Linked DNA regions of Homo sapiens. The protein of the gene in region 1 purifies or fractionates together with the protein of each later gene. This does not show direct contact. Each region holds a gene or a part of one and is shown on either strand. Other genes may lie near its edges.

Evidence for each region.
Region 2: the proteins of RETREG1 (region 1) and LAPTM4B purify together in Homo sapiens (affinity purification with mass spectrometry; 3 studies listed by BioGRID and IntAct, with this or other methods). This does not show direct contact.

What each region holds. Positions count from the first base shown.
Region 1 is NC_000005.10:16,480,976-16,488,014, reverse strand, and holds part of RETREG1 (reticulophagy regulator 1), read left to right. Parts: intron 1-4,542; coding exon 4,543-4,669; intron 4,670-6,921; coding exon 6,922-7,006; intron 7,007-7,039. UniProt on the Homo sapiens protein: Endoplasmic reticulum (ER)-anchored autophagy regulator which mediates ER delivery into lysosomes through sequestration into autophagosomes.
Region 2 is NC_000008.11:97,848,751-97,853,515, forward strand, and holds the end of LAPTM4B (lysosomal-associated transmembrane protein 4B), read left to right. Parts: intron 1-2,646; coding exon 2,647-2,724; 3' UTR 2,725-4,263; downstream 4,264-4,765. UniProt on the Homo sapiens protein: Required for optimal lysosomal function. Blocks EGF-stimulated EGFR intraluminal sorting and degradation.

The DNA.
Region 1 (7,039 bases):
AAGGCCCACACAGCTGCTGCTTAAACAGTGCCCTGGGTGTCTCACAACTACAGCTGCAGGAACTGCATGAAGGGCTTATTTGGCCAGACCTCCCAATGTATATGGTAAATTGTATTCTAATAGGGACAGGGAGGAAGAAAGAAGGGATGTTGGTTTGAAATTCTACTGAGAAGCCAAAGCTCCTTTCTGTGGACAAAGTGAGTTTGCTTATCTAAGGAGCCATCTTTCCATGTTTTATTCCCTTAGAGTTTCACTGGCAGGTAAAACCAGAAATTCTTCAGCTGCTGAAAAAGGACTTTGCCCTGGCTTAGGCTTCTTTGATAAAGAATTGCTTGATTGGAGAATGGCCTTCATCAAAACACCTGACTAGTTTTTCCGTAAGAAGGAAAACTTAACCAGATGGCATCTGCTGGGGCTTTTTTGGGAGTCATTTACAGTTACAGATCCTTGAGCAAAGCCCATTTGATAGATGGCATGGCCATGTAGAGGCTGGGGCTTGTAGTGACTTCTCCCTGGGAACTACTTGAACTGGACTGGCTACGAGGATGGAAAGTTGGGGATGATGGTCATCGGGGGTGACTCTTAAATGGTCTTTATCTTGTGGCTGGAGTGTGTGGTGAGTTCACTCCTTAGTGAAGGCAAGAGTGTGAGAGAAAGCTGGAAGGCTGGCGAGAGGGAGGGGAGATGGATAGAAAGATGAACCAAAGAACCTATTTCCTTTTGAACTTGGAAAGTGCATGGTCTCTCTGAAACTAAGGAGGAAATATTAATAAAGCTACTGGTAATGAATTTTCTCCCTTAGTTGAGCGTCAGTCACAGAAGACTTGTATTGTTTGTTTAGGAACTTAGTACAAACTCAAAATGTTTTGAAGCCTTAGGTATTTTCATTTCCTTTTATGTTAGTTGGGCCTTATGTTGCATGGTGATCAGTGCCAAGGATGGTGGGAAGACAGCTACACACCATGGAAAAGATCTGTTCCCCAAGCCTTGCCCAGCATTCACAGGAGATCTTTTTTCTAGTTATGTGTTTTCCAAATAAGGCTCTCTGGGAAAACCTAGAGTTTCATTACGTAGCAACTCAGCGTGTGTATGTGTGTGTGTGCAGATGACACCTGTGTTAAACATCAACCAACCACTAAGCGTAGATCTTGGTTTCTGCTGAGTATTTGGATTCTGCACATGAAGTGCTCTGTTTTCCTGGAAAGGGTTGGTCCTGCATGATGGCACGTTGGTATTGGTCAATCACACCTCATCTCTTCTGGTTCTAGGAAGGAGTGAGGAACATGAAATGCTCCTTCTCATTCTGAATTGCCATGTGGTCTCTTCAAAGAATATCATTGAATGTATTCACCCTTTGAAGAGGGCACACATTTTAAAGGATCAGAACTGTATTGGAAACCCAGAGTCCTGGCCTTGGGTCTTGGCTCTGCCTCATACTAGCTGCAAAAAGTTGGATTTCACGTTCCTCACCTATAAAATAAGGGAATTTGAAAAGTTGACATCAAATGTCCCGTCTCATGACAAATTATCTAATTCTGTATAACCTAAATTGAACTGTGGTGACATAAATTAATGGTAAACTCACTGGAAGACTATAGAAATGTGAGTTCCTATGGTACTCAGAATTAATCACTGGGCAATTTAAAACTATTGTTAAACTCCCAGGGAGCACCTGTTTTTGGTCCAGAAGAAAAGATGTGGAGTGACATCTTTTTTTCACCCTGGAACTTACATTTTCTTTTTAAATCATATATATTTCGATTAAATTTTATTCAGCCCAATCTGAACATTTATTTTTAATCTCAAACACTTATTACTCTTTACAAACCCATTTGGTTAGATATTATTTTCAGGTTGTACACAATGAATTTCTCATTTCTGTTTGTGATTATAACAATTCAAATATCAATTATAATTTATTGTGTTAATAAAAATGTAAGTAATGATGAAATTTATTGTCCCAAAAAACTATTATATGAAGCTTTTTAAAAGGGAAAAATGTAATATAATTAAGAGTGTTTTCTTATGACTATGGAAGATAGTCAAAGATTGCATATTTTTTTCTTTCTTTCCAGCAAATAGTGTTTATCTATAGACACAGAGGAATAGTGCTACCAGCATTCAAGTTTTTGATAACAGTATTTTCCACATTTAGTGTGATGCAAGACACAAAGGGGGAACTTAATAACTTTTTATTGAATAAATGAATAAATTAGTGGATAGATGGTGTCCACTTGAAGTCCCCTGTGGAAAATAGATAAGACCCTTCCTTAAATGCTAAAGAGAGTTTTTAGTTATTTCATAGTAATCTCTATAAAACACTTTAAGTTATATGAAGTCTTTGTTCTAACATTATCTCTATAGTGACAATTTAGTATTATACTAGGCTCTTTTACAATTTGGGGACATTTACTTAAGCAGTAATAAAAAATATGTAAACAAATATGGATATGGTGTCATTTCCAAGACATGAATCCTAAAGATGATATTAGAACAAAGTTCCAGCATCTGTACAAAGTACTATTCATTCAAAAAAATATTTTTTTGTCCTCGCGCAGTGGTTCATGCCTGTAATCCCAGCACTTTGGAAGGCCAAGGTGGGAGGATTGTTTGAGGCCAGGAGTTATGAACTGTTCATTTATTCCATCTTAATGTTTAAAAGAAAATAACAAATCCTTCCATTATAGCTTTTCATTGATTTTTGTTAGAATTATATTGGGCAAACAGTTCAAATGCATCCTTAAATAATTATTCAATATGCATAGAGAGCAGAAATTAAAATGTTTTCTGTCATCTTCATGGTCCCATTAAACTGAACAGTAGCTTAGCCTGTCTGTGCCAATTTGCAGCAAATCTATATTATTCTGAGAAAACAGACTGCATTTTAATAACCTTATATTTCCTTTGCCATATAGCTTTTGCTCTCTGGTGCAAAATCTTTTCCCACTAAGCAGATATCTGTGGCAAGATTTTGCCACAGATATCTGCTTCTTAGCTATGCACTTAGTATTTTAATAGATGTGGAATCATGGGGTATGCAAACCTGGTGCCAGATATGGTCCTGCTGAAAACAGATTTGCTCAGTGATTCAAGAGTGGGTAGAGTTAATGGATGCATAAACCATCCCCAAAAGTTCATTTCTTCTGACAGACAGGAAATCTACCTGCAGGAATAACATCAGCCTGGACAACTGGTAGCTCAGTGACTCTCCAGAGCATTAGTTGAGGCTGAAAGAACAAAGAGGAAGGAAAATGGTATACTTCCCCCCTTTTAAAATATGCTATTGCACTCATTTAAACTTGGATTAAAATTATTTTTATAAAAAGGAATTGTAATTTACAAATTGCCTTACTATTCAAAATATATTAAAAGTCACAGAATCTGTATGTACATAAACTTCTGTATAGTTGAGCATCTAAGGGCAAAGGTAGTTTTGATTTGTCTTAGGGCTACTGGAATTGAATCCAGAGATCAGCCTCACCCTGGTACCCTACCACAGCTCAGATGATAGTTCACTAACAATTCTAGTCTTCTTCTAGAAACTTTGCTGCTTTTGTTATTGCCATATCCATAGCTCTGTGGCAGTGCCTTCAACATGGTAGACACATATCTCTCAATAATCTCTTAAATGAATGAATTTGAGGATTCTTAACAGGGCTTGTTTGAACTGGTATGTTTTTATGAGTTAGGATTGCAAGAGCAGGAATTAAGCTTTATGTCATTGTAATGTTAGGGAATGACATGTATTTACATGTGTCTTCTTCCTGGAGTGATTGTTTCTAGTTTTTAGCTCACTGAGGTTCCTGTGGAAAATGAGGGCAGGGAGAAAGCTGGTTGCCGGCCCATGCATCACACTCAACACATTCTAGATGATGATTAGGAAAATGTACTCTGGAAAAATAGAGGATATTGTAAGATCTTTTTAACAATTTTCTATAGAGTTTTCCAACCATGGTATATATTGAAAATACATTGTTGGTATTTATTCTTAATATTGTATGCTTAATTCCAAGGTTTCTCTAAAAGTACTGTGGTTTCCCAATCCTTAAGGTTTAAGACGTTTCTAACAAGTCTTCCATGACCTAGTCTCCTCCTACCCCTCCAGCTTCACATGTTTTTCTTCTGGTTGACTTTGCTGGAGTCACATTGAGACTCAATAGGATAGCACATTTAAGCTCCTTCCCACTCCAGGGCTTCTGCATATATTGCATGTTGTTCTACCTGGAACCCTATGATTAACCTGCTGATCCATCCCATATCTGAGTTTTAAAATGACTCTTCATTAAAGATGTCCCTAAGCCTCACCCTGTTCTCCCTGAGTGTTTCCCTGATTGTAAACAGACAATTAATTAGACAGCTAATTGTTTCTTTTGACATGTGAGTTTCCTGAAGCAGGTGTCTGGATAGTTCCCTTCTGAATTCACAGGGCTTTTCCAGAGGGTGTGGCCAACAGTAGATGCTCAATAAATATTTGCCAAAGCCATAAATGTTGAATGAATCATCCAAAGTTCAGTAGTATTTTTTTTCTTTTTGTCTCTTTAGCTGGGAAGTTATCAATTCCAAACCAGATGAAAGACCCAGGCTCAGCCACTGTATTGCAGAATCATGGATGAATTTCAGCATATTTCTTCAAGAAATGTCTCTTTTTAAACAGCAGAGCCCTGGCAAGGCAAGTTTTCCAGTAAAGGAGTATGTTTTAAAATGTTCAGTTACTTGGAAACAAATGAACTAACCTATTTTATCAGCTTGTCAGATTTCTCCAATTTTAAATATAATATACTAAGAACATATGCCATAAAAGCTGGTATCAGCAAGGTTCAGATGTGTGAGTGTGCGAACACTAGATAATCCTCAGCCTCACATTGTGAAATTGGATTGGTTTTACATTTTATATATATTTATCTAGCTCATTAGCTAAAATGAATGGTGATTGGTCTTATCAGCAAGACTAGGGAGAAAACAGTCTTAAGAATTTCAGTTATCGTATTTAGCCTGGTGCTGAAGTCAAAGGGAGATGAAATGAATACATAGTTCTTTGACTGTGCTTTTGGAGATAACTGAATCTTATTTTCAAGCTAAAAAGTGGAGATTCTTGTATGATTTACTTATTTAAGAAAGAAAACTTTTGGCAAAAACATTCATAGTGATTATATAAACAAAATGAGTATTTTTCCAATTAAGATAAAACCCATGAGGGGGAAGTGTCTTACATGGTTGGGAAGGGATTACATGGAGTGCTGCACATACTTGTATTATTTTATGCATAAAGGCAGCTTTAATTCTGATCAACTGTCTTGATAGCTTGGGTGAGGTGCAGAACCATCAATAGACCTTGTCTATTCCAGTGTTGCTTTCAAGCTCCTTGAATATCCACCCGTGGATAGAATGAAGAGCTAGGAATGTCAGCATTGAAAATCTCTGTCTTTGTACCTTGTATAGGCAATATCGTAACTTCAATAGTATTAAATAATAGAACTATGCTTGGAGACATTTTGAGTGTATTAAAGTGGCAGTATTGCATTTGGATGCATTTTTTTTATTCATTGAAGGCATTTTTTTTTTTTTAGCATAGATACCTATATTTGGGGCATGATGTGCTGTTGATGTTGATTTTACTGAAGTGATTAAATGTATTTTTGGAAGATTCTAAACTTCAAACTTCTGCATTGGGTTGCATTAATGTGCCCCAAGTCAATTAGCTTAAAATGATGATGCTACAAATGTAGGGCATATTATGAAATCCCTTTGTAAAACTAAATTCTGGATATAGTAATGCTTTTCTTGGCTTATTTGTTCCTTTGACTTTTATGGCCTTTCCATTTCATTTATAGAATTCCAGATTCTTTCAAGGGCCCTTGCTGTTTTAGAAACAGCTCTTAATTTTGTTCCACAAGTCATCTAATCTACTTTTGACTAGTTAATTTATTAACTCTGTACCGAAGAATGAAAAATCAAAATTAAACTTAGATTTAGACCCCTTTGCTCTTTATCATCATCAGTTATTGGTCAGAGGTATGTATTCCTTCCTCCTGTATCTTTTAGAAACTCCCTTAATGAATTTCCTTTGCTTGCTTATCAGTTTAATTTACTATCACTGTTTAAAGATGACGAAAAATGTAAGACAGTTTAAGACTGGAGGGTGAAAAATCAGGTGAAGACTTTATGGTAACATTTTTCTGCCTTGATGTTTCTAAAGGGAATTAAGGATATTTTCTGATGTTTTTAAATTTCTTAAAACAATCAAGATTTTTTAACCATAAATGACAGAAGGAAAATAAACATGTCACTGTAGGAGTTTCATTTCAATGGCAGTTTTTTTCTAGGTGACTTAGAAGTGGGGTCAGTTTGAGCAGTATATATGGTTAGGAAAGAGGATAGTGATGGCCATAAATTTATCCTGTCAGCTTAGCAGCTATAAATTACATTAGATTTGTGTAAATTACGTTAGATTTGTGTAGATACCTCTAATTTCTGTAACTTGTTTTGCTGTGTTTTTATGAATTTCAGTGGGCTTATAGTGGTAGTTTGAACTTTCAGATGTAGTTATCAGGCCGCATTAATTTCCTTAAATGAGCGAAGTAAAAGAAGTTTCTGGGAACATAATAGTTTTCTGTTCTCTTGCACCTGGCAGTAATATAGCCACAGGCATGAGTAATGGGAGTTGTCACTCTCTGTGCCAGAAATTAGCTCCTGTGTCCTCAAAATAATTATTACCAAGTGTTGAAATGGACTAAGACTGGTTGAATGCAGCAGTCATTAGTCAGCCCTTAGTGCAAAATAATGCTCTTTGGAAAAAATCTGTAATAACCAGATAGGTCACTTATACCGGTCACTATAGATTTACAATTGTGTGTGTATCCTGTGCTCCGAAATATCTTGGTGTTATGCTTAACTATCCCATGTTATTTCTATTATTTCCAGTTTTGTCTCCTGGTCTGTAGTGTGTGCACATTTTTTACGATCTTGGGAAGTTACATTCCTGGGGTTATACTCAGCTATCTACTGTGTAAGTATAGTAGAACATATGGCTAAGTGTTGT
Region 2 (4,765 bases), on another chromosome or scaffold:
ATTGTGGTGAAGCTCAGTCTTGCTAAAATTAATATTTCTGGTGCGGTCACAGCTGTTTCCACTTGTTATAAGTTGCTGTATCTAATGCACACACACGTATGTGCGCTGGGGGCTCAGTCCTAAAGTCAAATATGCACACGCAGAGAAGACAGCTGTTGCTTTGTTTTAGAGAATACTTTTTTCTTCCCGCAGCTCAAGCTGACACTTTTGGAATTGCTAGTGGAGATGCTGTTGTTAGATACTGGCTAGAACTTGTCAAGGTCGACCATGAGGCTCTCTTCATGTGCTGACCTGTGCCTATCTTTCCAACTTCATCTCTGCAACATTCTCCCTTCAGTGTTCACTGTAGCAAACACCTTGCAGTTCCCAGAAAGTGCCCTGTGTCCTGCTTTCCTCTTAACTCCCTACTGGAATGTCATCCTCTTTACTGCACACCTGGTCATCCTACTGAGAGGCCTTCCTTGACTCCCTAGCCTAAATTGGTTGTCCTTGTCTGTTCTTTCCTAACTTGTCTGCATCCACACATTGCTCATGTTGAGTTTTACCTGTGTCTGCCTTCTGCTAGATTGCAGGCCCCTGAACAGACAGTGACATGTTTTCAGGTTCAAGTCGCTGTGACTGAGTTCCCTGGACACCTAGGTGCTCAGTGGGTGCTGGTTTGTTGGACTTAGTTTCCTGCTGTGCTTCCTTACCTCAGGCATGTGTTCTGTACTGAGTGTATCTTGCCTACTCCATTCCTTTTCCACGTGGGCAACGCTGAACATTTGCCCCAGACTCTGTATCTTGGTTAATACCTGACATATAAAGTATTTAGCACATAGGCAAAGATCACTACCTCTTTCAGGAACAAAGGCCGGCTGGCGGGTGCGACTCTGGCGCATTGCCTTTGCCTGTGTGTTGCTGGCCAGTTATCGGCTTCTTGCATCACAGCTCCAGAGTCCCATTTAGCTTGACATGGGCTGGGCCTTGCAGATACTCCTCCTTCACCTCCTGACCCTGTTCAGCCAGGCCAGTAGGGGGCACTGGAGGAGGAAAGCCGCCACCCCCCCTCCTCCACCCCCCTGCCCGCCTGCCCGCCCCCGGTTCCTGTGTGTTTCTGCAGTGTTCAGATCTTGCTGGCAGTGCTCCCCAGGGCCCAGTGCGAGCGGAGACAGCGGTGGCAGCGCCTCTCAGGCGGTTTCCAGAGCGGGCCGTGGCTCCCGGGAACGGCTTCCCGCAGGTGATTCTGTGCACACTGGCCTCTACCTGGTTCAGCGGGAAGCCTCTCCACTGTCCAATGGGCTTCAGCCACACCCTCCCTAGCCGTGTCTCAGCCCAGCCTTGGGGACCTCTGTTCTAGCTTGTTCCGTCCCTGAGTGCCGTACTTCAATCTTCTTATCCATTAGTGCTCTTTCCCCGCCATGAGTCAGTTCCCGGTTCCTCAGTCTCCTGTTAATAATTCTTCATGAAACTATATTCACATCACTGTGTGGCTTCTGTGTTCTGACTGGACCCTAGCCAGTACAGGTGCCCTCTGCCTAGGCAGCTGAAGGAACCATACAGGCTTTTCGGGGGCCGGCCTAAGTGGCACCTCCGTCACTCCGCAAACATCTGAGTTCCTGCTGTCGGATAGGCACTGGCCCACCCTCGAGGAAGTGAGACCTGGCTTCAGCCCCACAGGAGCTCCAAGACTGGGAGGAGAGAAGTAATGAAGTGTGTAGAGCTGGAGAGGAGGGGTGTGTGTGTGTGTGTGTGTGTGTTTGGGAGAGTGCAATGTGACAAAAACTTAACAAAATTTTAGTGTGGTTCTAGTAGGAGCTAAAGGGACAGATAAATGAAAATTAACAAAATTGATGAATACCACTTTAAGCATAAGTGATATCCCTGATAGAAAATCTAACCAAGTGTGGTTTTGTTTGTGAATAGTCTTTCCCTTTCCACAAATCACTTGAGGTGGGTGAGGTTTTGTTTTGTCTTCTCATCTCTGAACTCCTAAAGGGCAGGGACTGTCTTTTGTCTCAATTATCTTATACTCACAATGACTATTACATACTAGATGCATAATAAATGTTAGTTTACTGAATGAAGGGTGATATAACTATTCTGTATTCCATTTTCTACTCCAAGAAAGCCGAAATCAGCCAGTGTATAGACCGCCAACTCTGAGGTATCCTTATTTCATAGACATGGAAACTGATGTTAAGGAACTTACCCAAGGCTACGCTGATAAAATGTGACTGACCCAGGCTTTGAATCCAGGCTGATACCAAAAGCTTGGCGTTTTCACTGCACTTTGCAGTTCTCACCATGAGTGGTTACTGTAGTCAATCAAGTGCCTGCCCTATTTGTGTGTGCACATGGACACACTCACCTAGGGGTCTTTTTTCCTCTTCAGAGCCATCACCATTTCTTTTAGAGTCACCGACCTCTGGCCATCCAGCTACACATGGACAGGGTTAGAAAAACTCAAGGCTTGAGAGTCGCTCTCCATTTGCTCCTTTAAGGATTCAAAAAGTCTTTTAATGAAGTGTATCCACTTGCTAGAAAATTGAACTTGGTACAAGTTGTGGAACATGTTTAGTTGCATAAAAGTTCAGTAAAAGCTAAACCTCGGGGAACGTGTGTGCTCTTCAAACATTAACTCTTGCCGTCCCTCTTTCTTCTCAGGTGCTGCTACCCCCGTATGATGATGCCACTGTGAATGGTGCTGCCAAGGAGCCACCGCCACCTTACGTGTCTGCCTAAGCCTTCAAGTGGGCGGAGCTGAGGGCAGCAGCTTGACTTTGCAGACATCTGAGCAATAGTTCTGTTATTTCACTTTTGCCATGAGCCTCTCTGAGCTTGTTTGTTGCTGAAATGCTACTTTTTAAAATTTAGATGTTAGATTGAAAACTGTAGTTTTCAACATATGCTTTGCTGGAACACTGTGATAGATTAACTGTAGAATTCTTCCTGTACGATTGGGGATATAATGGGCTTCACTAACCTTCCCTAGGCATTGAAACTTCCCCCAAATCTGATGGACCTAGAAGTCTGCTTTTGTACCTGCTGGGCCCCAAAGTTGGGCATTTTTCTCTCTGTTCCCTCTCTTTTGAAAATGTAAAATAAAACCAAAAATAGACAACTTTTTCTTCAGCCATTCCAGCATAGAGAACAAAACCTTATGGAAACAGGAATGTCAATTGTGTAATCATTGTTCTAATTAGGTAAATAGAAGTCCTTATGTATGTGTTACAAGAATTTCCCCCACAACATCCTTTATGACTGAAGTTCAATGACAGTTTGTGTTTGGTGGTAAAGGATTTTCTCCATGGCCTGAATTAAGACCATTAGAAAGCACCAGGCCGTGGGAGCAGTGACCATCTGCTGACTGTTCTTGTGGATCTTGTGTCCAGGGACATGGGGTGACATGCCTCGTATGTGTTAGAGGGTGGAATGGATGTGTTTGGCGCTGCATGGGATCTGGTGCCCCTCTTCTCCTGGATTCACATCCCCACCCAGGGCCCGCTTTTACTAAGTGTTCTGCCCTAGATTGGTTCAAGGAGGTCATCCAACTGACTTTATCAAGTGGAATTGGGATATATTTGATATACTTCTGCCTAACAACATGGAAAAGGGTTTTCTTTTCCCTGCAAGCTACATCCTACTGCTTTGAACTTCCAAGTATGTCTAGTCACCTTTTAAAATGTAAACATTTTCAGAAAAATGAGGATTGCCTTCCTTGTATGCGCTTTTTACCTTGACTACCTGAATTGCAAGGGATTTTTATATATTCATATGTTACAAAGTCAGCAACTCTCCTGTTGGTTCATTATTGAATGTGCTGTAAATTAAGTTGTTTGCAATTAAAACAAGGTTTGCCCACATCCAAGATGACCTTGTGATTTTGTGCTGATTGTGTCTGAGGACCTTTCCCTCCACATATGGTCTGGCAGATGCACCCAGTTCAGCCTAAGGAGTAGGCTTTTTTTTGGGGGGGGGAGGTCGGGTGGGGGGGATTTTTAATCTTTTAATTTTCAAGATGGTTAAAATATTGAAATGTTTAAGTGGATAACTATATTATTCATAAAATGACTGAGTGAAAACTAATACACTATGAGATGAAAAGTACTTGTCAGGGATTTTCAAGCTTTTGCTCAAGTAATTACTATGAAATAACAATTTCTAGAAATGAAGAACAATCCGTGGAGAATAAATTACCATTGGTGTGGGGGAAAAAAGCCAAACAGAAGTAGAAAAAGGTGTAGCCGGCATACAAATGTTATCTACAGTGTATTTTTAGATTTTTTATACTTGACCAGGTCTCTTATGTCCTTTTTCTGGAAAACTGTTTTTAACTACTAAAGTGATTATAAATGAAAAAGTGGCCAGTAAAGTGACTACTATCTTCAGGGCTTTAAACCAGTTGGGATAATGTGGTAAGAGAAAAAGTTGAAGGTGTAATGCTACCCGCATACCCATTATTACTGTGACTATGGCTTCACTAAGTCTTTCAGAAATAAGAAGGCAAACCATGAAAAGAAAAGAGGAGCTGTACTGCTAGCTAAATTAAGGTAGTCTGGTTTGGCTGGACTACCTTCTGGTAGAGCAAAACCGCATCTGATCCCACCCAAGAAAGATGGAAACTGGCTCCATAAGCCATCTGAGTAAAAGCTAATATGGGAATATAAGTTTTTGTCATCAGCATGACCAGTGGTGGGGCAACGAAGGGGATTAGTCCTGCCAGAGTTACATATAATGCTGGCTTTGGGCTGTCAGTTAGGTAAGTGATGGTGCTTGGTGGCCT